Regions from separate parts of the Homo sapiens genome. Here region 1 is linked to region 2. The links come from fine-mapping of genetic effects on gene expression. A gene starts in region 2. The other region holds a variant in brackets. All regions are shown on one strand. Distances are between the middles of the regions.

Region 1 (16,216 bases), 420 kb after region 2:
ACATTTTCTTTTCATACTAAGTCTGAGAAATCCAGTGTGTATTTTGCACTTAATAACACATCTCAGTTTAGACTAACAACTTTTCAAGTGCTCAAGAGTCCCATGTATCTGGTGGCTATCAAACAGTGGTAGGTCTAAACTACAGATAAACTATAGGAATTTCTGGAATATTTACTTCTAATCATTTCTTGTATGCATGTTTTTTGACAGTTGTAGTCAGAAAGCAGAATTAAGTTTGGGGATTAGATCATAATCCCAAAACATACAATCACAAATGTTGAAATCCTGACATCCAAATTCTGGGGAAGTGATTAGTGTGTTTTGGGTTGCATGCAGGATAGTTGCATCATGTCAGTTGTATCATGTTAGGCACAACTATTACCATGTTATTGTCTTTATTTGGAAATTAAATATGGCTTAAGGAGATGCGTATGAGTGCCAAGCTGACAAGGGGTGGACTTGTGGACCTAATTTTAGGTATCAGCTTGACCAGATTAAGGAATATCAGAAACCTGGTAAAACATTATTTTGTTTTACACATTGAGGGTGTGTCTATGAGAGTGTTTCCAGAAGAGATTAGTGTATAAATCTGAGTGTACTAGGTGGAGACTATCTGCCCTCAATGTTGGCGGGCACCATCCAATCAGCCAGTGGCCAGGAGAGAACAAATACTTAAGACAAAATGGGCTGGGATCGGTGGCTCATGCCTGTAATCCTAGCACTTTGGAAGGTCGAGGTGGGTGGATGACCTGAGGTCAGGAGTTCGAGACCAGCCTGACCAACATGGCAAAACCCTGTCTCTGCTAAAAATACAAAAATTAGCCAGGCGTGGTGGTGCACACCTGTAATCCCAGCTACTTGGGAGGCTGAGACAGGAGAATTGCTTGAACCCAAGAGGCAGAGGTCGCAGCAGTGAGCCGAGATCACGCCACTGTATTCAGCCTGGGTGATAAGCTGAGACTCTGTCTCAAAAAAAAAAAAAAAAACAAAAAAAAACAAAAAACAAAAAAACGCAAAATAGCAAAACGGACTCTCTGGGTTCTGCTGCTTGGATATCAGAAATCTGACTCCATGAAAGTGCATTATCACAATACTGACTTTGTGTATAAGCATTGAGTGTGTACATAAAATGTTGAAACTTCCTCGATAAATGAGATATCCTTTTCGTACATCTGCATTTGTGAAAGATAAAATTTCTTGAGATCTCAGCTCTTTGGGTGACTGCATATGCAGTGGTGACCCAGCACAGTTTCCATCAATCTCATCAAAAGACTTGAGGTTGTTGGGCACAGTATTTCAGATGACCAGAGTTAAAAAGCTGGGTATACACAATTAACAACCAAAGTGATATGCATTTATACCTTTCCCTTTATGACCAATTTCTTTATAAATATGGCTCATCTGCTCATAACTGTTAGACCCACCCAAATGTTATTAGTAACCTGAGTGTTTATGCTTGCAAAAATGTATGTTATTATTGTCTGTTTTATTATATTAAGTGGTGTATAAAGTATTCTGTTGTGTTTTTATGTTTCTCAAATAAGTTCCCCTTTAAAAAATAAATATCTTTAAGTTTTTAAAACTATTTCTTCCATAATTATATTTTGGGGATTTTGATATTTTCTGGGCTGTGGTTTTCGGATTTTAGACTTTAGGGATTTTAGTCTTTTGGAATTTAAACACTTTAGGACTATGATGTTCTGGACTATCTTTTGGGATTATGATTGGCTCCCCTTCTTTTCGGTACATAACATTACACCCTAAGTATTTTGTCATGTTGTTGTATAATTCTTCATAAAGAATTAATGACTGCAGAATATACTGCTAGGTAGCTGTACCAAAAGTTATTTAGCTTTTTTCCTGTTATTAAACACACTTGCCTTGGGTTCTGGCTCTGGGCCCCTTACCTACACTGTCACTCCTTGTCATTGAATAACCAACAATTATATGTTCTTTTTAGGAGTAATCACTTCTCTTTCCTCACCATATTTTGCTACTATAGAAAAGTGGATTCTTCTCCATGGCCTCCTTGAATTCCTGGGGTTTCACAGAGGCTTGGAAAAGCCAAACAACTTTGCAAAGGGGCATGAAGGAACTTCTTGGAGTGATGAAAATGTTCTACGACTTTAAAGAACAGATGTTCTTTAAAAAAAAATTTAGTTTTTTTGAATAGTTAATACATACTTAAGGTATAGCATTCAAAGGATATACAATTAAATTAAATTAAATTAGTTCCCCTTCCTACGCCTGTGCCCTGTAGCCCTGCCACCCTGTATACCTTCCCAGAGGCAACTACTATTACCAGTTTCTTTTGAATTTTGAGATATGCCATGCATTTACAAAAAGTACTGGTTTTCTTTGCTTTCTTCTTTTTTAGGGGAGGAATGTGAGTGTGTGTGTGTTTGTGTATTACCTAACCATCTCAGCATTCATAGAAAGCTGCCTCATTACTTTTTAATAGCAACATTAAATTCTGAATAGAAATGGAAACTGTGGGAAACCTTAAGGTCTGAGTCACTTGGGAAGCTGTTTCAGAGCCGGCATAACACATCAGGTTTCACAGTAGCCTGGAAAAAACTGTCCACTGGACTATGCCACTTCCTCCCATCTCATGCTTGGTGGGTAACGTTATGATAGTTAACGATGCCTCCTGGGGACTTTGACATCAAGAAGGAGATGCCTACAAAGGGGCAAAGAGTAATTACTCTCAAAGTGATTGAAGAATTAATGTATGATATATATCACTTCTTATTCATTTGGGTTGCTTGAACTGGTCCTGGAGGGCCTACCCAAAGCATGGGAACCCAGCACAATGAAAGCCAAGACCATAGACTAGCTAAGCCCAACTGTGAAGTATGAGTTTGGTGGCCAGATGGTCTCTTCCTTTCACTTCTCTGATTTTTCTCTTGCAAGAGACAGCCCTGAAGTATTCTACTTCAGAAGCATTTGTGTTTCCTCTCCAGGAAGATTCTGCCTTCTACGACAATTATACAGAATACAGACCAACTGACTGTACATTAACTAACTGATTCCAAATGTTATTTTATTCCCCTGCCCCAGAATTGTAGCAGTTGTTCTGAAGTGCACAGAACAAGATGTAACCCAATCCAACACAATTAGCCATAAGAAATCTGAACTTCTGTACAAACAAAAATGGAAACTTGTTAGCTCTGGGAAAAATCCTGTGTCCCAGTGTTTCCTCTCTTTGTCACTTTATGCTCACAATTCTTAGGAAGCCTCAGTCTAGACATCCATCAGGAGACTACGGGCTCTAATGAGAAAGGTACACTGAGCACATTCTATGTGCACTGTACTGTGCTAGCTGTTTCCTTACTTGAGCTCACTTAATCCTCACAATATGAATTGCAATTAATCCTATTTCACTGAACAGGAAACTAAAGATCAGAATTTAAGTGGCTTGCCTAAGGTCACAGAATAAACAACAAAACGACATGAACTAGACAGAGTCAGCTCTGACTCCAAAAGTATTTTTTTAACCATATCATATTGCATCTCATTTATTTATTTGCTATTAAACTCTTTTCATTTATTTATTAATTACATCAAACACAGATGAGACCAAAACTAATTTAAAACTAGATACGGCTAGGCGCGGTGGCTCACACCTGTAATCCTAGCACTTTAGGAGGCCAAGGTGGGTGGATTGCCTGAGCTCAGGAGTTCGAGACCAGCCTGGGCAACACGGTGAAACCCCATCTCTACTAAAATACAAAAATTAGCCGGGCCTGGTGGAGTGCGCCTGTAGTCCCAGCTATTCGGGATGCTGGGGCAGGAGAATTGCTTGAACCTGGGAGGCAGAGGTTGCCGTGAACCGAGATCGCACCACTGCACTCCAGCCTGAACGACAGAGGGAGACTCCATCTCCAAAAAAGAAAACAACAACTGGATACACTGGGCCACTTTTCTTTAGATGCTATCAGGCAGAGCAAAACAGTTCCTCCCAGGAACACACACATTAGCAATCTATATGATGCCACTATGCCACTATGTGTAAACACATTTACATAGAGTGATTCTTTTTAAGCTTACACAATAGGCTGAATTAATTATTTAAATCACTATTAAAGATAGTCAAAAAGATTCTGGATGTGCAAATCAAATGCAGTTTATTTTTTTCAATCTCTTAGAATCTCTAAAAATCAAATTTATAATTATGTCTCTTAGTAGCTTAGTAGAGCAAAAAGGAATGTTAGGAAATACAACATAAATACAAAGTCTTGGTGACTTCTAAAACGCCATCTTTATTCCTGCACCTAGATGATGACAGATTACAAACGCATATTTCTACTCTTTAATTACTAGACCAGTTCCAATACTACACAATAGGCAGTCTCCCTAAAAGACAATAAAAGTTTCAAAGCAAAAAGAGGATTTTAAAGAATTCAACTAAAAAATCCCATGTTCTTCAATGGTTAGTGTGTAAAAGAATTCCCATAAGAAAAGTAGTACATTTCTTTCTATCTCTGATAAATGAAGCCCCTTCTGTTTCAGGTTATAATGAGCTATTTTACTCCAAAAGAACAATTCTCTATTATGGAACACTTCTAAGGTGATATGGTTCCTGAAACAACAGTGTGTATAGCAACAGCACTTTCATGGACTTAACACAAAAATGTAAACTTTGAAAAACAGGAGGTCACTATTCATACTGAGAAATAGCAGACAAATGACTGCAGCATTCCTTAAAAGACAATCCCCTTCAACCCTGCTAGTGAGTTTAAACATGATTACATTTATAAAATTTGATTTAGTTACAAAATGTCAAGAGCATGTCCAGTATGTTAAATAAGCCATAGTTAGTTTAAATTTTTTTTTTTTTTTTTTTGAGATGGAGTCTCGCTCTGTCGCCCAGGCTGCAGTGCAGTGGTGTGATCTCTGCTCACCACAAGCTCTGCCTCCCAGGTTCGCACCATTCTCCTGCCTCAGCCTCCCGAGTAGCTGGGACCACAGGCGCCCGCCACCACGCCTGGCTAATTTTTTGTATTTTTAGTAGAGACGGGGTTTCATCGTGTTAGCCAGGATGGTCTCCATCTCCTGAGCTCGTGATCCGCCCACCTCGGCCTCCCAAAGTGCTGGGATTACAGGCGTGAGCCACCGCGCCCGGCCAGTTAGTTTAAATTTTAAAGCAAACATCCATAAATGTCCAACTATTATCTATGTAACTGATATTCTCAAAATGCTTTTACCACATATCATTACAATCATCTTCACAACAGTTCTACAGGTGCGAGCCACAGCATCTGGCTCATAGGTGAGATCTTCATTGGGTTAAGTGGCTGTTTGGATTACAAAACAGGGCACTGTGTATGACAGTGAAATTTGTTTTACACTCATACTAACAAATACGTGGCTCCAGTCCTCATCAGAGAACCTTCTGTATGAAAGGCTAACATTTCACTCCATAACAACTCAGAAAGTGTAAGTTGTGGAGAACCCCAGGGGTCAACTGATCTAATCTCATGTGATACAGGAACCCCCTGTAAATCACTGCACATCACAGAATATGGATTTTAGAGTTGACAAAGCTGAACTCAAATCCTCGTTCTGCCTCTTCTTAGCAAATTACTTCATGTCTGCAATGATGGTTGTAAAGCATCGCAGGTGCCCTCACTGCTATGGTCCATCTGCTTCCCTTTCCAGATTTTTCACCATCCTGCCTGTGCTCCTGAATACACACTCAAGCTAGAAACACAGAGCCCCGAACTTAGGACAGTGATCTGGCCGGCCACTGCCTAGCAAGACTATCATCTCAGGAAACCCAGACCATGAAGGCGAGTACCTTCTAAGAGCCAGCACTGCAGCTGATCACCAAATTGGCTAGCTTTTGTGCCTTTTGCACTTGCTTTAGTGCCAACAGGATAAAACTGTCAAGGACAAAATCTAAATGTTTATTTACGTGGGGATGAGTCAGGAAGTAGACTTTATTTTACTGGGCTCAGGGCCAACAACCTCATTCAGTGGCCTCCAAAACTAAACACTTTGTTGAGGGAGAAGAGAAATCGCTCCACAAGAGATATAGAAAGGACTGGAATCTCCGCTTACAGAGCTGTGGACTGCCCAGAACTTACAGCAGGGTCAGCAAATTTTTTCTGTAAAAGGTAAAATAGTAACTTTATGGTCTCTGTGGCAACTACTCAGCTCTGTGATTGTAGCATGAAAGCAACTATAGACAATACCTAAACAAATGAGCGTGGCTGTGCTTCAATCAGATCTTACATACAAAAGCAGGCAACAGGCCAGCTTTGGTCCACAGGCTGTAGTCTGGTGACTCCTAGTTTAGAGTACTGTTACTGGCACATCACAGGCACACAATAAACATCAAGTATATGATTCAATGTACAGTGGCAAGAGAACAAACTGTCATGCTAAAATCATTTCAACCTTAAAAATAATTCAGCTTTCCCTATCTTTTATTGTTACTGATTACAGTGATGGTATTCAGGTGAACACTCTGCCATTTAGAATATCATTTAGCCTTAGCCTGTGCAGCTAATGCAGCTTCTTCACACCACACAGCCATCTTTGACATATTTCAACTTGTTAATGATTCATGTTCGCAGCCCTTTTGGCTGATGCTATCACTGCAAAGCAGTGATATGTGTGAGTCCATTCATTACGGTAACAAGCTTTCCCTCAAGCTTTGTTTCTTGCAATATCTATCATTTCTAGTGTGATCTCCTCCACTGATTTTTAAAAATCCAGTCAACAGTAGGATTTTCTTGTTGAACTGTGAAGGCCTGTGCTCGGTAGGGACTTTGTGAATCATCCCTGCTTGGGTCCCAGAGCTACTGGAGGGCCCATCACTGGAGTGGCTGGTGAGACCCTCCAGGGCATGAGAGTTGCTATGGGCCTCTGTGTGGCTTCTAGAGGCTTCCCAGGGGCACAAAGACTATGTGACCCAGGTGGAAGCTCGGGAGGCTCACGCTGGACACATGCTGCACACTCTGGCTCCCCTGTGGCTGCAGCTGCACCCACCTACCCAGCATTCTCCCCACGACCTGTCCAGCCCAAGCCCACGGCACTCCCAGGGGAGCCCAGGACACCCTCAACTTTTTA[G/C]TGGATTACTAGAGTATCAGACCACCCATTTATCTCTCAGTTCCTCACTCCCACCCCTGCACCCAGCAAGTCACCAAGTCCCCCAGGTGAGTAAACTGGAGCTAACAGCAGTTGGTACTTACGGCATATACTGGATTTGGCTCACTCACACGTGGTATTCCTATCTTCATCTACTGTATCTTCCTGGACTACATAAGCTGCAAAGTTAAAAACTGCATTTCTCAGATTCCCTTGAGCTAGGTTCCAGACGTGATTTATTATCAGTCAATCAAACACATTCGCATGAGTTTTGTATAGGGAACAATGTTAAGTCGGAAGAAAGGCAGAATGCAAGACACGGTTCTGGAGCCAGCAGCTTTATTGGTAGCATCCTGACTCAATAGGCAGCTTTCCTGATAATAGCAGGAACATCAGCCTCCTTGGTGGCCCACTCATTGTGTGGCTCTGGAAATCATTCCTGGATATTCCACCTAGTCTGTTTCTTTAGCTTTCCCAACAACTCTGTGAGCCATGTAACATTCTGTAATAAATTTCTTTCTGCTTAAATTAGTTAAAAGCCTCTTTTGTTTTCTGCAAATGAACCCTGAGCAATATAGTTGACTAAGATCAAACAACTACAAGTCATGCGTTGTTTAACGATGGAGATACATTCTGAGACATACACTGTTATGTGATTTTGTCTCACAAACATCACATAGAGTATATTTACACAAATCCAAATGGTATAGCCTACTACACACCTAGGCTATATGGGATAGTCTGTTGCTCCTAGGCTACAAATCTGTATAGCATGTTACTGTACTAAAGACTGTAGGCAACTGTAACACTGGTTACAATGGTAAATATTGGTAAATATGGTAAACAATGGTAAATATCTGTATATCTAAACATAAAAAAGGTACAGTAAAAATATAATCATGGGACCACCACAACGTTGTTATTCAGTGCATGACTGTATTAGCTCAGACGTTAACCAAAATGAGTCTGCCTTCAAAGCTCCATTCACTCAATCTCTATACTACACCACTGCAGTTCTGGGAGGCTGTTCTCCCTCAGGTCTCCCAGCTCTTCTAATGTCTGCTGAAGTTGGAATTCTCTTCTGCACATGGACTACGAAACTGACATGCTCAGTTATCATTTCATACTAGCTAAAGGATCTTCTCCTTTGTGAAGCATCCCTCACCACTACTACTGTGATGGGTCGGGGCCTTTCATCTGTTTTTCCACAGCATCTATGCTTCTCTTCACTGTATCATTTATCAAATTGATGATTTCTGCGTCCTGTAATAAACAGTGAGTACCTTAAGAACAAATGTCATTTCTTATTTCTCTCTACCCTCAGCAACTGGCTTATTAGAATAAACAAATAGTTAATGCTGCTAAGTGAATGAATGACCTAATATAATGGGAAAACATAACTTGGAGGATGGTTCAGTTGGCCGGCTTTATAACATGTTAAGATGCAATAATGGACAGGAAAGCATGAACAAAGTACAAAGCGCTGTTATCCACCATCATAAGTCTTTGTCTATATCCATCTTGTCTACATGGGCTCTCTAAGGGCAGAATCCTAGCTAGCTGATCTGTATCTAGCACAGAGCTTGTTTCTTAGTGTATGGAATGAAATCATCCACTAAAAATTATTAGTTGAATGTGGCTGGTGCCAAATACTCTTCCGGGCAGATCAAAAGAGATCTCAACCAAGATACAAATGATATAATATAATATTTTTCTTTCTTTCTTTTTTGTTTTGAGATGGAGTCTCACTCTGTTGCCCAGACTGGAGTGCAGTGGCATGATCTTGGCTCACTGCAAGCTCCGCCTCCCGAGTTCAAGCGACTCTTGTGCCTCAATCTCCCAAGTAGCTGGGATTACAGGCTACTATTTTTAGTAGAGACGGGGTTTCACTCAGCGGGGCTGGTCTTGAACTCCTAGCCTCAAGTGATCCTCCCGCCTCGGTCTCCCAAAGTGCTGGGATTACAGGCATGAGCCACTGCACCTGGACGATATAATATTTTTCTCTTTTAAGAGCAAACAATAAAGAATTTAAACTCATTTGCTTTTAGCAAAAGCAGTACTGTTTGCTCTTAAAAGACATAATTTTTTAATCTTTTAAGAGCAAACAATACTGCTTTTGCTAAAAGCAAATGAGTTTAAATTCTTTTCATATCATTCAGGCCATTTTGAGGAAGGTCTGGCAGAGCCTTTTGGTTGTTCCCCAATATCTTTCTCCCATTCTTCCTGAGTATTAGAGTCATCGCATGTAAACCAGGCATTAGTCACCCAGAATAAAGACTGCATGTCCTCGCTCCTTGAAGTGAGAGATGGCCATGTGACTTAAGTTCTAGTCAATGGAATGCAAGTAAAATTAGAGTGTACAACTTTTGGGAAGTGTCTTTAAACAAACCACAGGGTGGAGATGATACCTTTCTCTTCCCGTTTCCTTTTCCCCACAGGATGGAATACAGGGGGGACAGTTAGATTCTGAATTGTTAAGCAGAGCTGCTTGATGCAGAAGATGAAGACACAAGAAAGAATGAGCCTAGGCCGGGCACAGTGGCTCACGCCTGTAATTCCAGCACTTCGGGAGGCCGAGGCGGGAGGATCACTTGAGCTCAGGAGTTTGAGACCGGCCTGGCCACCATGGTGAAACCTCGACTCTACCAAAAAAAAAAAAAAAAAGCCAAAATTAGCCGGGTGTGGTGGCATATGCCTGTGGTCCCAGCTACTTGGGAGGCTGAAGTGGGAGAATCACTTGAGCCCAGGAGGCTGCAGTTGCAGTGAGCTGATATTATGCCACTGCACTCCAGCCTGGGTGACAGGGTGAGACCCTGTCTCAAAAAAAAAAAAAAAAGAATGAGCAAGCCTAGATCCTTGATGGTCATCTCAGCCCTGTCCTGCCTATGAGGAAGACTTAAACTTTGCTCCTGTTTTAGCCACTGTTACTTTGCATTTTGGTCACTCATCCTAATATATAAAATTAAAAAACTAAAAACAGGTTCTTTGTAACTATTTTGTTGTGTACTAATCATCAATCGAGTCATGAATATAAAGAGCTCTTTTAAAAAATATGTTCAAACCACAATCTAATCCAAATATAAACAGACCATAAAACCGTGTGTGAATGTAGACCAATAGAGTCAGAATATCAAGCCTAGTAACCAACACCAGAATTCAGAACAGTCAAGCTGAGTGTAACGGCACTAACTCTGTCAGATGAAGGGATGATTACCCTACCTGATGGTGAATTCCAGCAGCTCCTGGGCTCCCTGAGGGTCCAAGTGCTGAAGACTATACACTCTTTCAAGGCTCTGCTGCAGGAACTGCTGCGAAGGATCCTCTTGAGGTATGATGCTGGGAGAAACAGCTGATGACACCAGTTTTCTACCTGGTAACTAAGCAAACACAGTGGGATTATAGAGTCATTAAGTTTGGTGGCTCAGCTTTTGGTAACACACACACAAACACATAAAAGCACATTAAAAATGTGAGCTAAACAAAACAAAGGGGAAAAAAGGCTAGGAGATTCTATAAATAACATTTCTCCCCTTCCTCAGCAACAATTGGGAGTTAAAGAGAAAGAGACAAAATGCAAACATGGTCTACCCAATACAGCCACAGCTGCCAGGAGAAAAACAGAAAAGGTATAATATTTTCTATTGCTAACTGAAATAAATGGGCCAACCATAGGAAGGAGACTAAAAATTAAACTGTTGCTACATCTTTTTTTTTTTTAGACAGAGTTTCACTCTTGTTGCCTAGAGTGCAATGGTACCATCTCGGCTCACTGCAAACTCCACCTCCCAGGTTCAAGCGATTCTCTTGCCTCAGCCTCCTGAGTAGCTGGGATTAGAGGTGGCCGCCCCCAGACCCAGCTAATTTTGTATTTTTAGTAGAGACAGGGTTTCTCCATGTTGGTCAGGCTGGTCTCGAACTCCTGACCACAGGTGATCCGCCTGCCTCAGCCACCCAGACTGCTGGGATTACAGGCGTGAGCCACTGCACCCGGCCACATTTATCTTTAAAACACTATCTTATCTTTCACTTGAAGGAAGAGTAATGATTTATTCCCAAATAAACTTATATAGCATACAATTTTTTCATGAGAATAATTTTTTTTTATTTTTGGCCTAGCCCTTCAGATATTCTTACTGTTAAAAGTGGTTACCTTTTAAGATGGATGGGGAGGAGAGAGCAAAGAGTATTTCACTTTTCAATTTGTATCTACTTGTTTTTTGTTTTTTTTTTTGAGATGGAGTCTCACTCTGTCGCTCAGGCTGGAGTGCAGTGGCACAACCTTGGCTCATTGCAACCTCTGCCTCCTGGGTTCAAGCAATTCTCTTGCCACAGCTTCCCGAGTAGCTGGGACTACAGGTGCCCACCACCATGCCCAGTTAATTTTTGTATTTTTAGTAGAGATGAGGTTTCACCACGTTGGCCAGGCTGGTCGTGAACTCCTGTCCTCAGATGATCCACCCGCCTCAGCCTCCCAAAATGCTTAGATTACAGGCATGAGCCACCGCACCTGGCCTCATTTTGTATATTACTCCAAATAAAGTGATTTGGAGTCACCCAAGCAGGGATGAGTTAATGCAAATAGAGAGATTGGAAGAGTACCTGGGCCACAGCATTCACGAAGTGTTTGCTATTATTATTACGATCCATTTTTAAATTTTCTTCTTTATATCTCTAGGTTTTAAAAATAGTAAAGGTTTTATTTTTAAAAAATAAGCACTTCTGGAGAATCATGGCTATATGTAATAGTTAAAATATAACAATTTAGGCTGGGTGTGGTGGCTCATGCCTGTAATCCCAGCACTTTGGGAGGCCGAGGCAGGCAGATCACGAGGTCAGGAGATCAAGACCATCCTGGCTAACACGGTGAAACCCCGTCTCTACTAAAAAATACAAAAAATTAGCCGGGTGTGGTGGCAGGTGCCTGCAGTCCCAGCTACTCGGGAGGCTGAGGCAGGAGAATGGAGTGAACCTGGGAGGCGGAGCTTGCAGTGAGCCGAGATCGCGCCACTGCACTTCAGCCTGGGCGACACAGCGAGACTTCGTCTCAAAAGGTAATAATAATAAAAATAAATAAATAAATATATAACAATTTAAATTCTTGATCTAAAATATAATCTATTGTTCCAGGTTCCTTTCTTCTTGCCTAATATCAATAACCCAGGGACACCAAAAAAAATGAATCATCTTAAAAGGTAAAGGATACAAAAGCAAAAGTATAAAACAATGGCAAAGAGCCCAAGAGAGAAGGAGAATGAACAAACAAGTTTTCAGAGAATATATGGACTGCTTTCTACTATTTAATAACCACAAAGCACAAAAAATAAAAAGCCAAAAACAAGCTGCACACAATGGTGCTCACCTGTAATCACAGCGACTTGGGAGGCTGAGCCAGGAGGATGGCTTAAGCCCAGGAGTTTGAGACCGCCCTGGGCAACATAACAAGACCCCCATCTCAAAGGAAAACATGAACACAAATACCCCTACCCCATGCAAAATAAAAACAAGGACAACAGATGTTTTCAACATACCCTCAAGGCAGGAACAAGATGAGAAAGACTGTCTCGGAGGTAGGCATAGTGCCTGACGGTGTGATCTGAGAACAATGCTCGCATTGTTGGACAGGTTTTAGCAGCATTGAAAATAAGTACCAAAACTGCAATATCTGATAGATCACTGGGTTAAGTAAACTTGGAAGTATAAAAGGTTGGCCAGATTCTGGCACTCTCACTTTCCACCTCCAAAATCTCCATCAAGAGACTATGATTTTCTAATAATCAAAGAAATGCAAATACAAACAACAAAATACATTCCCCTACTCCACCCACACCCCCAATTACCAAAGGTTTTTAAAAATGCCAGAGACTGCCAAGAATACAAAAAAATGGAAATGATTTTGCCTATAAAGTAAGCAACTATATTGCCTATCAAAGTACATACTGGCCAGGCATGGTGGCTCACGCCTGTAATCCCAACACTTTGGGAGGCTGAGGCGGGTGGATCAGTTGAGGTCAGGAGTTTGAGACCAGCCTGGGCAACAAGGTAAAACCCCGTCTCTACTAAAAATACAAAAATTAGCCGGGAGTGGTGGCAGGCACCTGTAATCCCAGCTACTTGGGAGGCTGAGGCAGGAGAATCATTTGAATCCAGGAGGCGGAGGTTGCAGTGAGCTGGGGTGGTGCCACTGCACTCCAGCCCAAGCAACAGGTTAGGAATTTGAGACCAGCCTGGCCAACATGGTGATAACCCGTCTCTACTAAAAATACAAAAATTAGCTGGGTGTGGTAGCGGGCGCCTATAATCCCAGCTACTCAGGAGGCTGAGGCAGGAGAATTGCTTGAACCCGGGAGGCAGAGGTTTCAGTGAGCCGAGATCAAGCCACTGCACTCCAGCCTGGGTGACAGAATGAGACTCTGTCTTCAAAAAAAAAAAAAGGAAAGAAAAGCAAAGAAAAGAAAACTCAGACCACCCTAGCTACACTGCAGAAGGAGATGCCAAAGCTGCCTGCCAACACATCAGGGCCCATCCTAAGCACAGAGGATACAAGCTGGATCATCCATGTCTGGTTCAGCTGTGTCAAAAAATGGGTGGGTGCTCAGAAGCTCTGGCACCAAGGGAAGCACCAGGGTTGGATGCCGACTTCCCAGAAACTTCAAGCACCTGAAACAAACAAATAAGAATGCACATCAACAAATTAGTAAAGTTAGTCCTTTGAAAAGTACTAGGAACTGGAATCAGAAAACCTGAACTGGAATTGGAAATTCTCAACCATATACTTTTGCTAACTCTATGACTTCAGATAAGTCACCCAGTTATTCTGGAACTTGGTTAATTCATCTAAAAAAACTGGTTATTATAAAGATAAAAGAACTGTTTATTTAACCAACAGCCATTTCCCCCATCTTTCTTCCTGAGAGAGCCCTGATTTTACTCAGGTATCAGGCAGGCAGCAAAGTGCTCGGAAAAGGCAGGTCCAGCCCAAGAGCTGAACCACTATTGGTCTAAACCCATCATGGCAACCCCATTCCCATTTTCCAGTGACTGGTTTGCTGGTACGCAAGTAAGCCAGTTCTAGACAATGGAGCACGAGAGTATGCTGGCTGGGGAGCTTCTCAGGGATGTTTTTGCAAATCAAAAGAGCAATGCATGAAAGGGAATGACCCTTCCTTTCTGTCTTGAGATATTATCTTATGAGGCAGCCATCTTACAACCATGAGAAGAAAGCCGGCCGGGTGCGGTGCCTCACGCCTATAATCCCAACACTTTGTGAGGCCAAGATGGCTGGATCAGGAGGTCAAGAGATCAAGACCATCCTGGCCAACATGGTGAAACCCCATCTCTGCTAAAAATACAAAAATTAGCTGGGCATGGCGGCACGGGCCTGTAGTCCCAGCTACTCGGGAGGCTGAGGCAGGAGAATCGCTTGAACCTGGGAGGCGGAGGTTCAGTGAGCCGATATTATGCCAATGCACTCCACCCTGGCGATAAAGAGAGACTCTGTCTCAAAAAAAAAAAAAAAAAAAAAAGAGCCAAGAGAACTGCAGAGAAACCAAAGAGAGCCCTGGTAACCTGTTGAATGACCAATCCTGAAACCAACCTTCTGACCTCGTTATGAAAAAACAGACTTATTGGCTAAGATATTTTTAATCAGATTGTCTTTTTTATTTGTGGGCAAAAACATTCTAATTGATATCCTGGGTGAAGTCCTGAAATCACAGATCTGTCTGAAACTAAGTAGCCTTATGCAAGTAAATTTTTTCATCTACAAAATGAGATTAAAAGTCATTACTTCATAGAGTTGCTATATGCATTAAATAACTAACATAAAGTACTCAGCAAAGTGTCTGTCACATAGTAAGAACTCAATGTTAGCTATTATAACTACCTGAGGGCCCTTTATAAACTATAAGGAACTATACAAGCAAGGTAATTATACATTTTTATTATTGTTTATGGTTTTTTTTTTTTTTTTTTGAGACTGAGTCTTGCTCTGTTGCCCAGGCTGGCATGCAGTGGCACAATCTCGGCTCACTGCAACCTCTGCTTCCAGGGTTCAAGCGATTCTCCTGCCTTTGCCTCCCGAGTAGCTGGGATTACAGGCATGTGCCACTACGCCCAGCAGATTTTTGCATTTTTAGTAGAGATGAGGTTTCACCATGTTGGCCAGGCTGGTCTTGAACTCCTGACCTCAGGTGATCCACCCGCCCCAGCCTCCCAAAGTGCCGGGATTATAGGCGTGAGCCACTGCACCCAGCCAATTAAGTGCACCTTCTAAACCAGAACTTAATGAATAAAAAATAATAAGGCCGGGCACAGTGGCTCATGCCTGTAATCCCAGCACTTTGGGAGGCCAGGGCAGGTGGATCACCTGAGGTCAGGAGTTCAAGACCAGCCTAACCAACATGGTAAAACCCCATCTCTACTAAAAAAAAAAACAAAAATTAGTTGGGTATGGTGGCGTGCACCTATAATCCCAGTTACTCGAGAGGCTGAGGCAGGAGAATCGCTTGAACCCAGGAGGCAGAAGTTGCAGTGAGCTGAGATCACGCCACTGCATTCTAGTCAGGGTGACAGAGCGAGACTCCATCTCAAAAAAAAAAAGTAACAAAACAAAACACTATATAGGAGAAAGAGGAAATCTAATTAATTTATTTCTATACTTGTAACAGCTACCACAAGGGTTGGTGCGTAGTCAGCACACAGCAGGCACATAATATTTGCTAGGTGGATAGATGCACAAATTAGTAAGTAATCTAAAATGTGATATTCAGCTTAGGAATCAGATTCCTGAGAGCGGTTAAGTTCAATCAGGTTTCTAAAGTAAAGGCAAAATTCAGGGCCGTACCACCCTCAATCTATAAGGACGGAACAAATGTCAGCATTGTACATTTACCACATTATGCGACTCAGTGAGTAAATGGGCAAAAAAGTCATTACTTCCATATGGAGTCCCTATCAGTAGGGTACTTGGTTAAATTTTTCAGCAGCTCCACCAATGCAAGATGAATCCCTTCTTTGGTTGAAACATTAGTACAGCATAAGAGTTCATGAAGAGCCTCTCGAATATCTCTGGCTGAATCCTTTTAAAAAAAAGTAATAATAATAGTAGTTACTGTTGGTTAGC
Region 2 (16,216 bases):
CAAGTAGCTGGGACTACGGGCACCCACCACCACGCCCGGCTAATTTTTTGTATTTTTAGTAGAGATGGGGTTTCACTGTGTTAGCCAGGATGGTCTTGATCTCCTGACCTTGTGATCCACCCACCTCGGCCTCCCAAAGTGCTGGGATTACAGGCGTGAGCCACTGTGCCCGGCCAAACAGTGCCTATTAATTGCCACACAGTCAACTCTTACACAGGCAATGACGAAAATAATTGCTCAAATTCTCCTATGCCCAACCTATGCTATCAAGTCATGCTCTGAAAACCTAAACTCTGGTACAAGCAAACGGAGCAGCTTCTGAAGTCAATGAACAACTTAACTTGTAGCATTCTCTTGGGAGCTAGCAAATGAGTATCCTCTTTCCAGTCCTGTTACTGAGTTGTTATAGTACCTATTACCCACCTTTTCTAAATATGAGTATTTCCAGCTGTAAAAGGAAAGAAATCCTGACACTACCTCAAAAAGATGGTACAGAGGATAATGTCTATTTTCCCAATTATATATATTACGTTCAAGAATAAAAGAGTGGATACAAACTTTTCCAGCCATATAAATGATCATTTATAGACAAAGCCAAATAGCAAATACCTTATAGATAGAAATACCTAATTTTGCTATATAAATATTTTGCATGGTGGCGCATGCCTGTAGTCCCAGCTAGTCAGGAGGCTGAGGCAGAAGAATCGCTCGAATCCAGGAAGTGGAGATTGCAGTGAGCTGAGATTGCACCACTGCACTCTAGCCTAGGTGATGGAGTGAGACTCCATCTCAAAAAAAAAAAAAAATTGTATGCTTTTACTTGACGAAAATACATTTCCAAGTAATGGTCAAGAAATTTTTATTTTTAAATTGTCAATCAAATAAAGCATAAATATTCCTCCCCTTAAATAAATTTCTGGGCCAGCGCGGTGGCTCATGCCTGTAATCCCAGCACTTTCGGAGGCCGAGGCGGTAGAATCACCTGAGCTCAGGAGTTCAAGACCAGCCTGGCCAACATGATGAAACCCCATCTCTACTGAAAATACAAAAATTAGCCAGGCAGCTACCCAGTAGGCTCAGGCAGGAGGACTGCTTGAACTCGGGAGGCGGAGGTTGCAGTCAGCCGAGATTGCGCCATTGCACTCCAGCCTGGGTGACAAGAGCGAAACTCCATCTCAAAAAAAAAAGAAGAAATTTCAGGTATTATTATTATTATTATTATTATTATTATTATGTATTAGTTACTTAGTAGGTATTTCCTCAATCAGAATTTTAAAAAGTAGCAAAAACTTAGGGGAGCTGTTCATTGTGCCTCCTCACTTCAGGTTCTGGGAGTGTCTGATAGAGGTACAATATACAGGCATCCCCTGGTATTCACTGGAGATTGGTCCCAGGACCCCCACATATACTAAAATCCAAACATGCTTGTGTCCCAGAGAGCCTTGCAGAACCAGCAGCTAGGAAGCCAGCTCTCCACATACGTGGGTATATTCTCATCCCTCAAATACTATATTTTCATTCTCTGTGTTTGGTTGCAGATGTGGAACCTGCAGATATGGAGGGCCAACTGCATTTATTTTTTAAAATCTGCGTATAAGGAGATCCATGAAGTTCAAGCTCGTGTTGTTCAAGGGTCAACTGTATCTGCAACTCAAGGTTCTGCTAAAGATCCTAAGGAGCAGACTTCCAAAGGTCACGCCTCCTGTTGAAGACCAGGTGAGGACCAGAAGTTAGGCTTCCAGACCTTTCCACTCCAGGGCCCTTCCACTCCCAAATCACATGTCTATCTCAGGAAACCTCATTTTCCCATGAATTACTGGCTGCAAAATTCTTGATTGGTTACAGGAAGTCACTGACTACTTGGCAGAAGGGGACAGGCTGTTACAAGAACAAAACCCCGTGATTCAAACCATTTCACTTAGGAAAATCAGAAAATATACACGCCTAGCAACTAGGATGCTAGCTAATGAATTTATACAGTCGGCTTTCCTTAGCCTCAGGTTCCACATCCTTAGATTCAACCAACCTCAAATGAAAAACATGCAAAAAACATTTTTTTTTCTTTTTCTTTTTTTCTTTTTTTTTGAGACGGGGTCTCGCTCTATCGCCCAGGCTGGAGTGCAGTGGTGCGATCTTGGCTCACTGCAAGCTCCACCTCCCGGGTTCACGCCATTCTCCTGCCTCAGCCTCCCGATAGTAGCTGGGACTACGGGCGCCCGCCACAGCGCCCAGCTAATTTTTTCTATTTTTAGTAGAGAAGGGGTTTCACTGTGTTAGCCAGGATGGTCTCGATCTCCTGACCTCATGATCCGCCCCACTCAGCCTCCCAAAGTGCTGGGATTACAGGCATGAGCACCGGGCTGCAAAAAAAAATTTTAAGAAAATGCTACATTGTTGCTGACATGTACTATGTAGTTAGGCCTAGGATGGCTGCCTCTACACTGAACATGGATAGACTGCTTTTTGTCATTATTCCCTAAACAACACAGTACAACTACTATTTACACAGCCTTTACATTGCATCAGATATGACAAGTTGGTTGATAATCAAACAGTTTTTCCTCTGCTCTCACTCGACAACAATCAATACAGAAGACTTCTGTGACCAGATGTGTGGGGTTTTCTCTCTACCAATAAACAAGCAATCAATTCTGCAGCCAACACCAGCTGGGTACCCTCCAATCCAATTCATTTCAGACACTATCTGAAAACAGTGTGAGATTCCACAGGCTGAGGGCTCAGTCCCAGAAGACTGCCCCTACTTCAGACAGCAGTCACACAAGTCAGGGCCTCCAGAACTTCTCAACGGCGGGCTTCAAGCTGCAGTTCCCAAGACCTCCTCTTTAGGCTTCATTAATTTGCTAGAATGGCTCACAAAACACCTACTTAGGTTTACTGGTTTATTTAAAGGATATTACCAAGCATACAGATGAAGTGGTGCACAGGGTGAGGGATAGAGAGGGGGCGCAGAGCTCTATGCCCTCCCCAGGCATACCACCCTCCAGAAACTTCCACCTGTTAGACTATCCAGAAGTTCTCTTGGGCGTTTTGTAGAGATTTCATTAGAGAGATGATTGAAGCATGGCCAACCTCACAGTAATTGACTGGACAGAGAGTGTGATCTAATACTAAGACTGAGTGCAGACACCCAGCAAGGCCCATCCAGATTCTCCCTGGCCTCTGTGTGTGGTATTCCTTCCTACTGGGTAAGGGGCAGGACCCCCTCTGAAACAATCAGACGAGATAGGTCAGAGAATTTCTTTACAACCAGCTCTAAGACAGAAAGGCAGGGGATGATTAGAGGGCAAGAGACAGACAGAGCTTCTGTTTTCTGAGGCCTGCTTCTGAGGCTTAGAGTGCCCCAACATTCTAACAAAAGACTGTCTTTCACCTTTACTGCTCTGAAGCTGTCCCAAGGCCGCTTCAGGAACCTTGGACAAAGGACAAATACTTTAACAAAAGTTATGCTTACTGTTTTAGTCATTTAGGAAGTAATAAAGGCTATGGTAGTTATGAGCCAGGAACCATGGACAAAAACCGGTATTACATGTCATGGTATCATAATAAGTCATCTAGAGATGATTTAAAGTATATGGGAGAATGTGCATAGATTATATGCAAATACTACACCGTTTTATATCAGGGACTTGAGCATCTGTGAATTTTGGTATACGCAGGGGGTCCCAGAACCAATCCCCCAAAGACGCTGAGAGATGACTATATTTATGAAGCTAATAAAGTATTGTTATATTACTTTATTGAACAAGTATTTGCTGAATGCCTACTGTGTGCCAGATGCAATGCTAAGCACTAGGTGAACAGACACTGGTCCCCACCCTCCAAACAAGTAAACATACATTTATTATTGCAACTTGTAATTATTTGAGGGAAAGTAAATCAAGGTACTATGAAAGACAAAAAGAACTTATGTTAGTTAGACTTACTGAAGACGAAAGGCAACTTTGAAAAGGGACACAACCTTCAAGAACAGGTGGCCAGGTGTGGTGGCTCACGCCTGTAATCCCAGCACTTTGGGAGGCTGAGGCAGGCAAATCACCTGAGGTCAGGAATTCAAGACCAGTCTGGCCAACATGGAAACCCCGTCTCTACTAAAAATACATAAATTAGCTGGGCGTGGTGGCACACGCCTGTAATCCCAGCTACTTGGTAGGCTGAGGCAGGAGAATCTTGAACCCTGGAGGCACAGGTTGCAGTGAGCTGACATTGCGCCACTGTACTACAGCCTGGGTGACAGAGCAAGACTCCATCTCAAAAGCGAACTAAAAAAAGAACAATAAAAAGAAGAGAACAGGACGAGGGCGAGGAGGAAAGTATACCAGACAGAGGGTACCACAACGCAATGGTCCTCAGGAAGTGCTTAGAAGGTTAGAGGAGAAGGAAATACCTGTCAGTGGAAAGTGTGTGTCTGGGAGGTTGGGAGAGTGGCAAGTGGTAAGGCTGGGGAGTAGGTGAGGTTTTACAGGGTCTTGCAGGTCCTGGTAAGAGATGGAGATTTTCTCTAAGTACAATGGAAAGTCAATGAAGGGTTTTACCCAGGAGCGACATGTTCCAATCATTACTTAAGATCACTCCAGTTGCCATGTGGAGAACAGAATGGAGGCTGGGGAAGAGTGAACACTCAAAGGCTATTGCTTAATCCAGCCCAGAGGTGATGGACTACAAAGCTAACATTGGAGATGGTGAAAAGTAACTGCATTCAAAATATATTCTAGGGTGGAAACAACAGGACCACTGATGGACTGGATTTAGGGAGTGAAGAGAGAGGGCTAGATTTTTGGTCTATGCAATTGGATAGATGATGAGAAGAAGGTTAGAAACATACCTTTGAGAACCATCAGCACATAGATGGGTGAAATGACAGAGTGTGGAGAGAAAGGGTCCCAGGACTGAGCCCTAAGATACCACTCAACACTTAGACATCAAGCAAGAGAGGAACGGGACCCAGGGAAGGACACTGAAGTAGTCCTTGATGTAGGAGGAAATACGCAAAGGAACATACATCACAAGAAAAGGAAAGTTTCTAGAGTTTCTGTATTAACCACTGCTGAGAGATCAAGAAAGTTGAGGCCAGAAAATCAACCTCTGAATTTGACAAGATGGAGGGATCAGGTTTTTTTTTTTTTTTTTTTTGAGACAGTCTTGCCCTGTCACCTAGGCTGGAGTGCAGTGGCACAATTTGGTTCACTGCAACCCCTGCCTCCCGAGTTCAAGCGATTCTCCTGCCTCAGCCTCCTGAGTTACTGGGATTACAGGCGCCCACCACTACACCCAGTTAATTTTTGTATTTTTAGTAGAGAGGAGGTTATGCCATGTTGGCCAGGCTGGTCTCAAACTCCTGACCTCAGGGGATTCGCCCACTTCGGCCTCCTAAAGTGCTGCGATTATAGGCATGAGCCACCACGCCCCGCTGGTTCAGGTAATCTTAACAGTCATTCCCGTAGACCAGTGAGGATGAAAGCCCAACAGAATGGCTGAGAGAATGAGGGGCTAATCAGCACTTTCAAGAAGTTTTGTTGGGATGGGAAGCAGAAATGGAGTAAGAGGGGGACATGTATGTGGGGACGGAGGATTTTCTAAGATGAATTCTCTAAAGCAGGGTTGTATGCTCACAGGAAATGCTCTAGTAAAGAGGGAAAAATTAGTAATGATGGCTTGGACTAGAGTAAATTATATGAATAGTTTTTTAGGTTGCAGATGAAATCCCATCAGTGGGTTGCAAAATTAATTCAGTGGTTCAATTTTTTTTTTTTTTTTTTTTTAAGACAGAGCCTTACACTGTCACTCTGGCAGGAGTGTAGTGGCTCTATCTCAGCTCATTGCAGCCTCCTGGGATCAAGTGATCCTCCCATCTCAGCCTCGTAAGTAGCTGAGACTACAGGCATGAACCACCACACCCAGCTAACTTCTTAATTTTTTGCAGAGACAGGGTCTCCCTATGTTGCCCAGGCTGGTCTCCACCTCCCAGGTTCAAGTGATCCTTCTGCCTAAGCTTCCCAAAGTGCTGGGATTGCTGGTGTGAGCCACCACGGTTGGCCCCATTCATATTAATAAAAAATAGACAATATGAGAGTGTACGCCACACATTATTGTTTCATGAGCCTTTCATTTCAGTTACACAGACATATTGTGTTTAAAAAAAAATCGGAAGAGGCCAGGTGAAGTGGCTCACGCCTGCAATCCCAGGACTTTGGGAGTACAAAGCAGGAGGATCACTTGAGCTCAGGAGCTGGAGACCAGCCTGGGCTGTAGTGAGACCCTGCATCTACAAAACTTTTTTTAAAAAATTAGCGGTGAGTGATGGCGTGGGCCTGTAGTCCCAGCTACTGAAGAGGCTGAAGCAGGATTGCTTGAGTCCAGAAAGTGAGGCTGCAGTGAACCATGATTACACCCCGCCTGGGGGACAGAGCAAGACCCTGTTTCTTAAGAAAAAACAATTAATTAAAAATGTAAAAATGTGAAATGCCATAGTACATATAACCATTAAACATGAGGCAAAAGAACATAAAGGAAACTGTATCAAATAATCAGTTCAAAGAGAACACAAGATAGTAATACCTACAAATTAATATCAACCGTATAAAGCCCACATTCAGAGTAGATGCAAAATCTTCCATTTGCACCAGGCGCAACGAGCAAGCATGGAAAAGACCACGTGGAGTTAAACTGTCAGAAAATCTTTTACCCTCGCCTTGCACACACACCCACACACCCCCTGCTGTTTCTCTGGTCCCAGTCCTGGTTCACGTCCTTCCCTTCTCCACCCCAAAACCAGCCCCTTCCCTCACAGTGTTTACTGCTCCCATCAAATTCCGAGGGCAGCTCTTCCGAGGGCTCTCCAGGGGCCTACAGCTGCAAGCAGAGCTCTACCCGGCCCTGATTCGTCTCTCCTCCACCTACTTTCAGGGCGGACAGACTCAGGCCTTTATAGCCTTCTAAGTCCGGGGTCGGATACCAGACTGGGCTCCACCCCCGCACTGTGACCCAGAAACGCTGGTAAACGAATGAGAGAAGGAGGGGGCACATTGAAAGGCAGCCGGACACGGAAGTGCTCGGCCCCGCACCAGACACGGCGTGGAGGGGAAGCGAAGGTTCGGAAGGGCAAAGCGAGAGTCCCGTTCGTCCCCGTCACCACCCCGCGGCCCTCCCGGACAGGGCCGGCCCGCTGCCCTCACTCCCGTACGAGGGTCGCCCAGTCCCCACGGCTCTCGGCTCTCAGCTCTCAGCGGTCAAACCGTTGGGCTCCTCGGGCGAAAAGGGACGCGCCCGAGAAGACTTACACTTCCATGACGTCCCGCCTCGTCGCCCCTAGCTGCCAGCAGACAAAGAACCTCACACTTCACAGCTGTCTCCGCCGCCACCAACAGCGCCAAGGTGCCAGCTCCGCGCGCCAAGGTGCTCGCCGGGATCGCCGCGCTGCATGCCGGGAGCTTGGCGGACCCGGAACCTCGCGCTGCGCGTTCCCCTTTTTCGGGGGGCAGGGTGGGGGAGTGTCCCTGCATCCTTCCACCAGGCCGATTTAAGACTGCTAAGCGTTTGCGGACAGGATTATCTTGTGTTTTCTTTTCTTTTTTTCTTTAACCTTTTTTTTTTTTTGAGACGGAGTCTCGCTCTGTCGCCCAGGCTGGATCTCGGCTTACTGCAACCTCCGCCTCCTGGGTTCAAGCGATTCTCCTTCTGCCTCAGCCTCCCAAGTAGCTGGGACTACAGGCGCTTGCCACCAAGCCCGGCTAATTTTTTGTGTTTTTAGTAGAGACGGGGTTTCACCGTGTTAGCCAGGATGGTTTCAATCTCCTGACCTCGTGATCCGCCCGCCTCGGCCTCCCAAAGTCCTGGGATTACAGGCGTGAGGCACCGTGCCCAGCCTCTTTTTTTCTTTTTTGAGACAGAGTCTCGCTCTGTCACCCAGGCTGGAGTGCAGTGGCACGATCTCGGCTCACTGCAATCTCTGCCTCCCAGGTTCAAGCAATTCCCTGCCTCAGCCTCCCGAGTAGCTGGGATTACAGGCGCCCGCCATAACGCCTAGCTAATTTGTGTATTTTTTAGTAGAGACGGGGTTTCATCATCTTGGCCAGGCTAGTCTTGAACTCCTGACCTCGTGATCCACCCGCTTCGGCCTCCCAAAGTGTTGGGATTACAGGCGTGAGCCACCTCGCCGGGCTCTGTCTGTTTTCGTGGTCTAGGTTTTAACAAAGTATTAATCAGCTGAAGTTGTGAGACGTGATCGGGTTAGTGGGCCTTTGCATGTTAAAATCCCACCTCTCAGAGAGTAGTGAGGCTGGTGGCATCTGGGCTGCCAGAAACATTGCAGTTTATTTATTTATTTTTTAAGAGACAGGGTCTTGCTCTGTCGCCCAGGCTGGAATGCAGTGGTGCAATCAGAGCTCACTGCAGCCTTGAACTCCTGGGCTCAAGCAATCCTCCCACCCCAGCCTGCCAGAGTAGCTGGGACCACAGGTGCGCTCCGCTACACCTGGCTAATTTTCTTTTTTTCTTTTTCTTTTTCTTTTTTTTTTTTTTTGAGATCAGTCTCACTCTGTTGCCCAGGCTGGAGTGCAGTGTCGTGATCTCGGCTCATTGCAACCTCTGCCTCCTGGATTCAAGCAGTTCCCTGCCTCAGCCTCCCCAGTAGCTAGGATTACAGGTGCCCGCCATAATGCCCAGCTAATTTTTGTATTTTTTTAGTAGAGACGGGGTTTCACCATCTTGGCCAAGCTGGTCTTGAACTCCTGACCTTGTGATCCACCCTCATCAGCCTCCCAAAGTGTTGGGATTACAGGCGTGAGCCACTGCACCCAGCCACCTGGCTAATTTTCTAAAATAAAATTCTTTATTGTCCAAAGAGTCAGCTACAAAATTTTTTAATTTTTTTGTAGAGATGGGGGTCTCACTGTGTTGCCCAGGCTGGTCTTGAACTCCTCGCCTCAAGTGATCCTCCCACCTCCAACTCCCAAAGTGCTGGGATTACAGGTGTGAACCACCACAATAGCCTCTGTTGCCTACTTTGTAAATAATAAGGGTGTTAAATAATCCTTATAAAGTTCCTGGCACTTTATTAATTACTGTGGCAATACAACCATGACTCTCTATGAGGTACATTGCATTATTATTGACATTTTATAATTGAAGAAACTGAGGCAGACTTGGAGAGATTATGATTTACCAAAAGTCACTCATCTAGGAAGTTGTCCAGTGGGTATTGAACCCCAGCCAATCTGAACATATACAACAGATGCATTAACTAGAGACTGATGAGTGGATGAATAAAATGTGCTACATTTGTGCAATGGAAAACTACTTAAAAAGGAGGCTGGCCGGGCACGGTGGCTCACGCCTGTAATCCCAGCACTTTGGGAGGCCGAGGCGGGCAGATCACGATGTCAGGAGATCGAGACCATCCTGGCTAACAGGGTGAAACCCCGTCTCTACTAAAAATACAAAAAAAATTAGCCGGGCGTGGTGGTGGGCGCCTGTAGTCCCAGCTACTAGGGAGGCTGAGGCAGGAGAATGGCGTGAACCCAGAAGGCAGAGCTTGCAGTGAGCCAAGATCGTGCCACTGCACTCCAGCCTGGAAGACAGGGCAAGACTCTGTCTCAAAAATATAAAAATAAAAAGGAGGCCAGGCTTGATCTCAGCACTTTGGGGAGCAGAGGCAGGAGGATTTCTTGAGACAAGGAGTTCCAGAGCAGCCTGGGCAACATAGCTAGACCCCCTAACTACGAAAAGTTAGCCAGGTGTGGTGGTGAGCACCTCTAGTCCCAGCTACTGGGGAGGCTGAGGTAGGAGAATCGCTTGAGCCAGAAGGTAGAGGCTGCAGGGAACTATGATCACACCACTGCACTCCAGCCTACAGAGTGAGAGACCTTGTTGCAAAAAATATATATAGACAGACTGATAGATAAATGCTGCAAGATGGATAACCTCCCAAAACATGATGCTATTAATAAGTGAAAGAAGCCAGACACAAAATAATATATATTGCCTGGCCAGGTGGCTCACGCCTGTAATCCCAGCACTTTGGGTGGCTGAGGTGGGTGGATCATCTGAGATCAGGAGTTCAAGACCAGCCTGGCTAACATGGGGAAACCCTGTCTCTACCGAAAATACAAAAATCGCCAGGCGTGGTGGCTCACGCCTGTAATCCCAGCACTTTAGGAGACTGAGGCAGGCAGATCATGAGGTCAGTAGTTCGAGACCAGCCTAGCCAACATGGTGAAACCCCGTCTCTACTAAAAATACAAAAAGTAGCTGGGTGTGGTGGGGGGCACCTGTAATCCCAGCTACTCGGGAGACTGAGGCAGGAAAATTGCTTGAACCCAGGAGGCGGAGGTTGCAGTGAGCCGAGATCACGCCACTGCACTCCAGCCTGGGTGACAGAATGAGACTCCTTCTAGAAAAAAAAAAAAAAGAATACATATGGTATGATTCACTTTATATAGAATGTCCAAGAAGAGGCCAATCTATGGATACAGACAGAAGGCTAGGTTGGGGGCAAGGATGGGAAGTGATTGCTAATAAGTAGGGAGTTTCTCTTTGGGAAACAGAAATTGTCTAAAATTATTATAGATGGTGGTGGTGGTTGCACAACCCTGTGAATATACTGAAGACACTGAGTTGTATACTTTAAATGGCATATTGTACAGCATATTAATCCTATATTAATAAAGCTGTTAAACATTTTTTACTCTGCTGAGTGTGGTGGTCCACACCTGTAATCCCAGCACTTTGGAAGATGAAGGCAGGTGGATCGCTTGAGCCCAGTTTGAGACCAGCATGGGCAACATGGTGAAACCTCATCTTTACCAAAAAAATAGAAATTAACCAGCTTGATGGCTCGTGCCTGTAATCGTAGCTACTCAGGAGGCTGAGGCAGGAGCATCGTCTGAATCTGGGAGGCGGAGGTTGCAGATCACGCCACTGCACTCCAGCCTGGGTGACAGAGCAAGACTCCATCGCAAAATAACGACAACAAAAAAGTCATAAAATGCCACCCAGACCCAGCTGGCCTAGTTAGTGTGGAGAATTCCCTGTACCTTCGCTGAGGAGATTGGGCCCCACAAAGAAATGCTAAAGATGCCCCTTGTGTTATTCACTCAACAAGTATGTAGCCATGGCCCATCGGGGGCTGATGATACAAATGTGACTAACACACACCCTCTGCACTGGCTAGCTGACAGCCTAGTTGAGGAACCAGCTCTGGACATAAATAACCACAATGCATTGTGTTTCGACGCGATGGGCAGGGGAGGGAATGACTAATGAGGTGGAGAGGCGTCCCAAAGCCACGGGCCTTTGAAGTGGGTGAGGGAAAAGCACACGAGGCCGAGGGATTGGGTATGGGCTTCAGTGAAAAACAGCAGTGCCTCTGACAGCCCCCATGATAAAATGGCTCAGGTGTGACTTAGAGTAGGGAGTTAGCTGGGTGTTCGAATGATACCCGGTAGGCCAGGTGCGGTGGCTCATGCCTGTCATCCCATCATTTCGGGAGGCCAAGGCGGGTGGATCACTTGAGTCCAAGAGTTCAAGACCAGCCTGGCCAACATGGTGAAACCTCATCTCTACTGAAAATACAAAAATTAGCCGGGCATGGTGGCAGGCGCCTGTAATCCCAGCTACTCAGGAGACTGAGGTAGGAGAACCACTTGAGCCCGGGAAGCGGAGGTTGCAGTGAGCCGAGTAAACATTCTTTTTACTGTCTGCACCTCTGGTCCTGGATAGTCGCTGATCACCATGACAATTAAGGGTATGGACCTTAAGAAGAAAAGATTATCCTGGATTTTCTATGTGGTATCAACATAATCACATGGATCATTAAAAGCATAAAATCATTCTCACCTGATGTCAGAGCCCAAGGGAGGTGTGGCTAGGGAAGGGAAGAATGATCTGAGAGATGCAATATTCCTGCCTTTGAAGATGGAGGAAGGGGCCATGAGCCAAGGAATGTAGGTAACTGTAGAAGCTGGAAAAGGCAAGAAAACAGATTCTCCTGTGAAGCTTCCAGAAAGGACTGCAGCCCAGCTGGGTGCCACGGCTCACACCGGTAATCCCATCACTTTGGGAGCCCAAGGCAGGCGGATTACTTGAGGTCAGGAGTTTGAGATCAGCCTAGCCAACATGGTGAAACACTGTCTCTACTAAAAATTTAAAAAATTAGCTGGGTGTGGTGGCAGGCGCCTGTAATCCCAGCAACTTGGGAGGCTGAGGTAGGAGAATTGCTTGAACCCAGGAGGGGTAGGTTGCAGTGAGCCAAGATCGTGCACTCCAGGCTGGGCAACAGAGCGAGACTCTGACTCAAAAAAAAAGGACTGCAGCCCTACCAACACCTTGATTTTAACCCAGTGAGACTGATTTAGGACTTCTGTATTACTCCATTCTCACACTTCTATAAAGAAATACCTGAAGGCCGGGCATGGTGGCTCATGTCTGTAATCCCAGCACTTTGGGAGGCTGAGGCAGGCAGATCATGAGGTCAGGCGTTTAAGACCAGCCTGGCCAACATGGTGAAACCCCGTCTCTACTAAAAAATACAAAAAAAATTAGCTGGGCGTGGTGGCGCACACCTGTAATCCCAGCTACTGGGGAGGCTGAGGCAGGAGAATCTCTTCACCCAGGAGGCAGAGTTTGCAGTGAGCTGAGATTGCACCACTGCACTCCAGCCTGGGCAACACAGCAAGACTCTGTCTTAAAAAAAAAAAAAAAGGAATACCTGAGACTAAAAAAGAAAAAAGAAATACCTGAGACTAGATAATTTATAAAGAAAGGTGGTTTGGCTGGGCGTGGCGGCTCACGCCTATAATCCCAGCACTTTTGGAGGCCAAGGTGGGAGGATCACGAGGTCAGGAGATCAAGACCATCCTGTCAGTGAAAACCTGTCTCTACTAAAAAATACAAAAAATTAGCCAGGCGTGGTGGTGGGTGCCTGTAGTCCCAGCTACTTGGGAGGCTGAGGCAGGAGAAAGGTGTGAACCCAGGAGGTGGAGCTTGCAGTGAGCCGAGATTCTGCCACTGTACTCCAGCCTGGGCGACAGAGCAAGACTGTCTCAAAAAAAAAAAAAAAAAAAAAAAAAAAAGGTGGTTTAATCAGCTTACAGTTCCACAGGCTCTAGAGGAAGAAAGGCAGCATCTTCTTCTGGGGAGGACTCAGGGATCTTCTACTCATGACAAAGGTGAAGGGGAGCAGGACCAAGAGACGAGGGGAGGAGCTACACACTTATTATTATTATTACTTTATTTCTTTATTTTATTTTTGAGACAGAGTCTCGCTCTGTCACCCAGGCTGGAGTGCAAGAGTGCAGTGGCATGATCTTGGCTCATCACAACTTCCGCCTCCCAGTTTCAAGCAATTTTCCTGCCTCAGCCTCCTGAATATCTGGGATTTCAGGTGCCTGCCACCCTGCCCAGCTAATTTTTGTATTTTTAGTAGAGATGGGGGTTTCACTGTGTTGTTCAGGCGGGTCACGAACTCCTGACCTTGTGATCTGCCTGCCTTGGCCTCACAAAGTGCTGGGATTACAGGTGTGAGCCACCATGCCCAGCCCATGTCTGCAAATTCTCTGACACCCCTCATGGAGTGGAGTCTAACTCCTCCCCACCTTGAACATGGTCTAGCCTTCCTGACTTACTTCCTTTTCTTTTGAGACAGGATCTCACTGTGTATCCCAGGCTGGAGTGCAGTGGCGCAATCACGGCTCACTGCAGCCTTGACCTCCTGGGCTCTGGCGATCCTCCCACCTTAGCCTCCTGAGTAGCTGGGACCATAGGTGCTCACCACCACACCCAGCTGATTTTTTTTTTTTTTTTTTTTGAGATGGAGTAGCACTCCTGTTGCCCAGGCTGGAGGGCAATGGCGCGGTCTGAGCTCCCTGCAACCTCTGCCTCCTGGGTTCAAGCAATTCTCCTGTCTCAGGGTCCCAAGTAGCTGGAATTACAGGTGCCTGCCACCACGCCCAGCTAATTTTTGTATTTTTTTGTAGAGATGATGTTTCACCATGTTGGCCAGGCTGGTCTCAAACTCCTGACCTCAGGCGACCCGCCCACCTCGGCCTTCCAAAGTGCTGGGATTACAGGTGTGAGTCACTGCTCTCGGTAGATTTTTGTATTTTTTTGTAAAGATGGAGTTTCACCACCATTGCCCAGGCTGGTTTCGAACTCCTAGGCTCAAATGATTCTCCGATTTCAGCCTCCCAAAGTGCTGGGATTATATGTGAGAGTTACTGTGCCTGGCCAACTTACTTCTTCTAATTCTGTTTTTTTTTTTTGAGACAGAGCCTCCCTCTGTTTTCCAGGCTGGAGTGCAATGGCGCGATCTTGGCTCACTGCAGCCTCTGCCTCCCGGGTTCAAGCGATTCTCCTACCTCAGCCTCCCGAGTAGCTAGGATTGCAGGCATGTGCCACCACACCCAGCTAATTTTTGTATTTTTAGTAGAGATGAGGTTTCACCATGTTAGCCAGGCTGCTCTTGAACTCCTGACCTCACTCAGGTGATCTGCCCACCTCAGCCTCCCAAAGTGCTGGGATTATAGGCATGAGCCACCACGTCTGGCCCTGACTCACTTCTAAGAGGTAGAATGTGGTCAAAGAGACTGCATGACTGCTGAGGCTGCGTCAGAAAAGGTAATGCAGCTCCCACCTGGCTCTCTCTGGGGCTATGGGCCTTTGGAGCATGAAGCCAGCCTATAAGAAGCCCAGCTGCCTCCACACCACCATGCTGGAGGGATTACATGGAGAGATCACACAGTTATACTGTGAGATGTCCTGTCTGTCCCAGCCCTCAGCCATTCGAGTCTTCCCAGTCTAAATACAAGACGTGTGACTGAGGAAGCTTTTGAAATGATCCCACATGGTGGTGCATGCCTGTAATCCCAGCTGCTTGGGAGGCTGAGGGAGAGTTGCTTGAACCCAGGAGGCGGAGGTTGCTGTGACCAGGATCAAACCACTGCACTCCAGCCTGGGTGACAGAGCAAGACTCCATCTCGAACAATAAAAATAAAAATGAAGGCCGGGTTTGGTGGCATATGCCTCTAATCCCAGCACTTTGGGAAGCCAAGGTGAAAGGATCACGAGGTCAGGAGACAGAGACCATCCTGGCTAACACAGTGAAACCCCGTGTCTACTAAAAATACCAAAAATTAGCCCTGTGTGGTGGTGGGCACCTGTAGTCCCAACTGCTTGGGAGGCTGAGGCAGGAGAATGGCGTGAACCCGGGAGGTGGAGCTTGCAGTGAGCAGAGATCGGGCCACTGCACTCCAACCTGGGTGACACAGCAAGACTCCATCTCAAAAAATAATAATAATAAAATAAAAAATAAAAATAAAAACATGGTCTGGTCTTCATGACTCACTTCCTTTTGAGACAGGATTTCAGCCAGTACTGTAAACATATGAGGAACCATAAGCAAGACCTCCTAGCTAATTCAACCCCCTGAATTATCAGAGGTAATAATTGTGACAGTTGTTTTACAACCTGGGATGTCTCCTTACACAGCAAAAGACAACAGATAGACACATATAGTACTTTGCACATAAAAAACACTGAAAACATAGCAGTCCTGGCCAGGCACGGTGGCTCACTTCTGTAATCCCGGCACTTCGGGAGGACGAGGCGGTGGGATCACCTGAGGTCAGGAGTTCGAGACCAGCCTAGCCACCATGGTGAAGCCCCGTCTCTACTAAAAATAAAAAAATTAGCCAGGTGTAGTGGTGTACACTGGTGTAATCCCACCTACTCAGGAGGCCGAGGGAGGAGAATTGCTTGAACCTAGGAGGTGGAGGTTGCAATAAACCAAGATCGTGCCACTGCACTCCAGCCTGGGCAACAGAGTGAGACTCCATCCCAAAAACAAAAACATGTCAGTCCTAATTGTTATTATTATTTCAAACCAGCTTTATCTTGACCCACTAGGCCCTTATGTATTAATCATAGCAACTATTATTTATTGAACACTTAGTATAAATCAGACATAGCACATATGTGCACACCTTGTTATACTCCACTTTGATTTATTGTGCTTCACAGAAACTGCATTTTTTACAAATTTAAGGTTTGTGGCAACCCTGTGTTGGGTAAGTCTGTCAGTGGCATTTTTCCAACAGCACATGCTCACTTCATACCTCTGTGTCACAGTTCAGTAATTCTGGCAGTATTTCAAACTTTTATTTTATTTATTTATTTATTTATTTTGAGGCGGAGTCTCGCTCTG

Direction of the effects. Alleles are on the strand shown, and positions count from the first base shown. SD is a standard deviation of normalised expression in the study named.
For the expression in hypothalamus of the gene that starts at base 7,422 in region 2, allele C in region 1 goes with a higher level than allele G (moderate effect, 0.63 SD a copy in GTEx).

Evidence for each region.
Region 1: its variant is fine-mapped to the expression of CRCP in hypothalamus (GTEx, PIP 0.93).

Annotation. Positions count from the first base shown.
Region 1 is chr7:65,689,264-65,705,479 of GRCh38, reverse strand. The region is part of intron 3 of LINC03006 (long intergenic non-protein coding RNA 3006); the gene reads left to right. It also overlaps the pseudogene INTS4P2. Among named protein-coding and RNA genes, the nearest start is that of SNORA22, 58 kb to the left of the region's middle. RefSeq lists a silencer at 5,510-5,804. The variant G/C (reference allele first, on the strand shown) is at 7,078.
Region 2 is chr7:66,106,053-66,122,268 of GRCh38, reverse strand. CRCP (CGRP receptor component) reads right to left here and starts at 7,422. Exons shown (of 6, transcript NM_014478.5): 1 at 7,299-7,422. The coding sequence starts at 7,306. RefSeq lists silencers at 6,633-6,927, 8,356-8,546 and enhancers at 6,514-7,042, 7,580-7,709.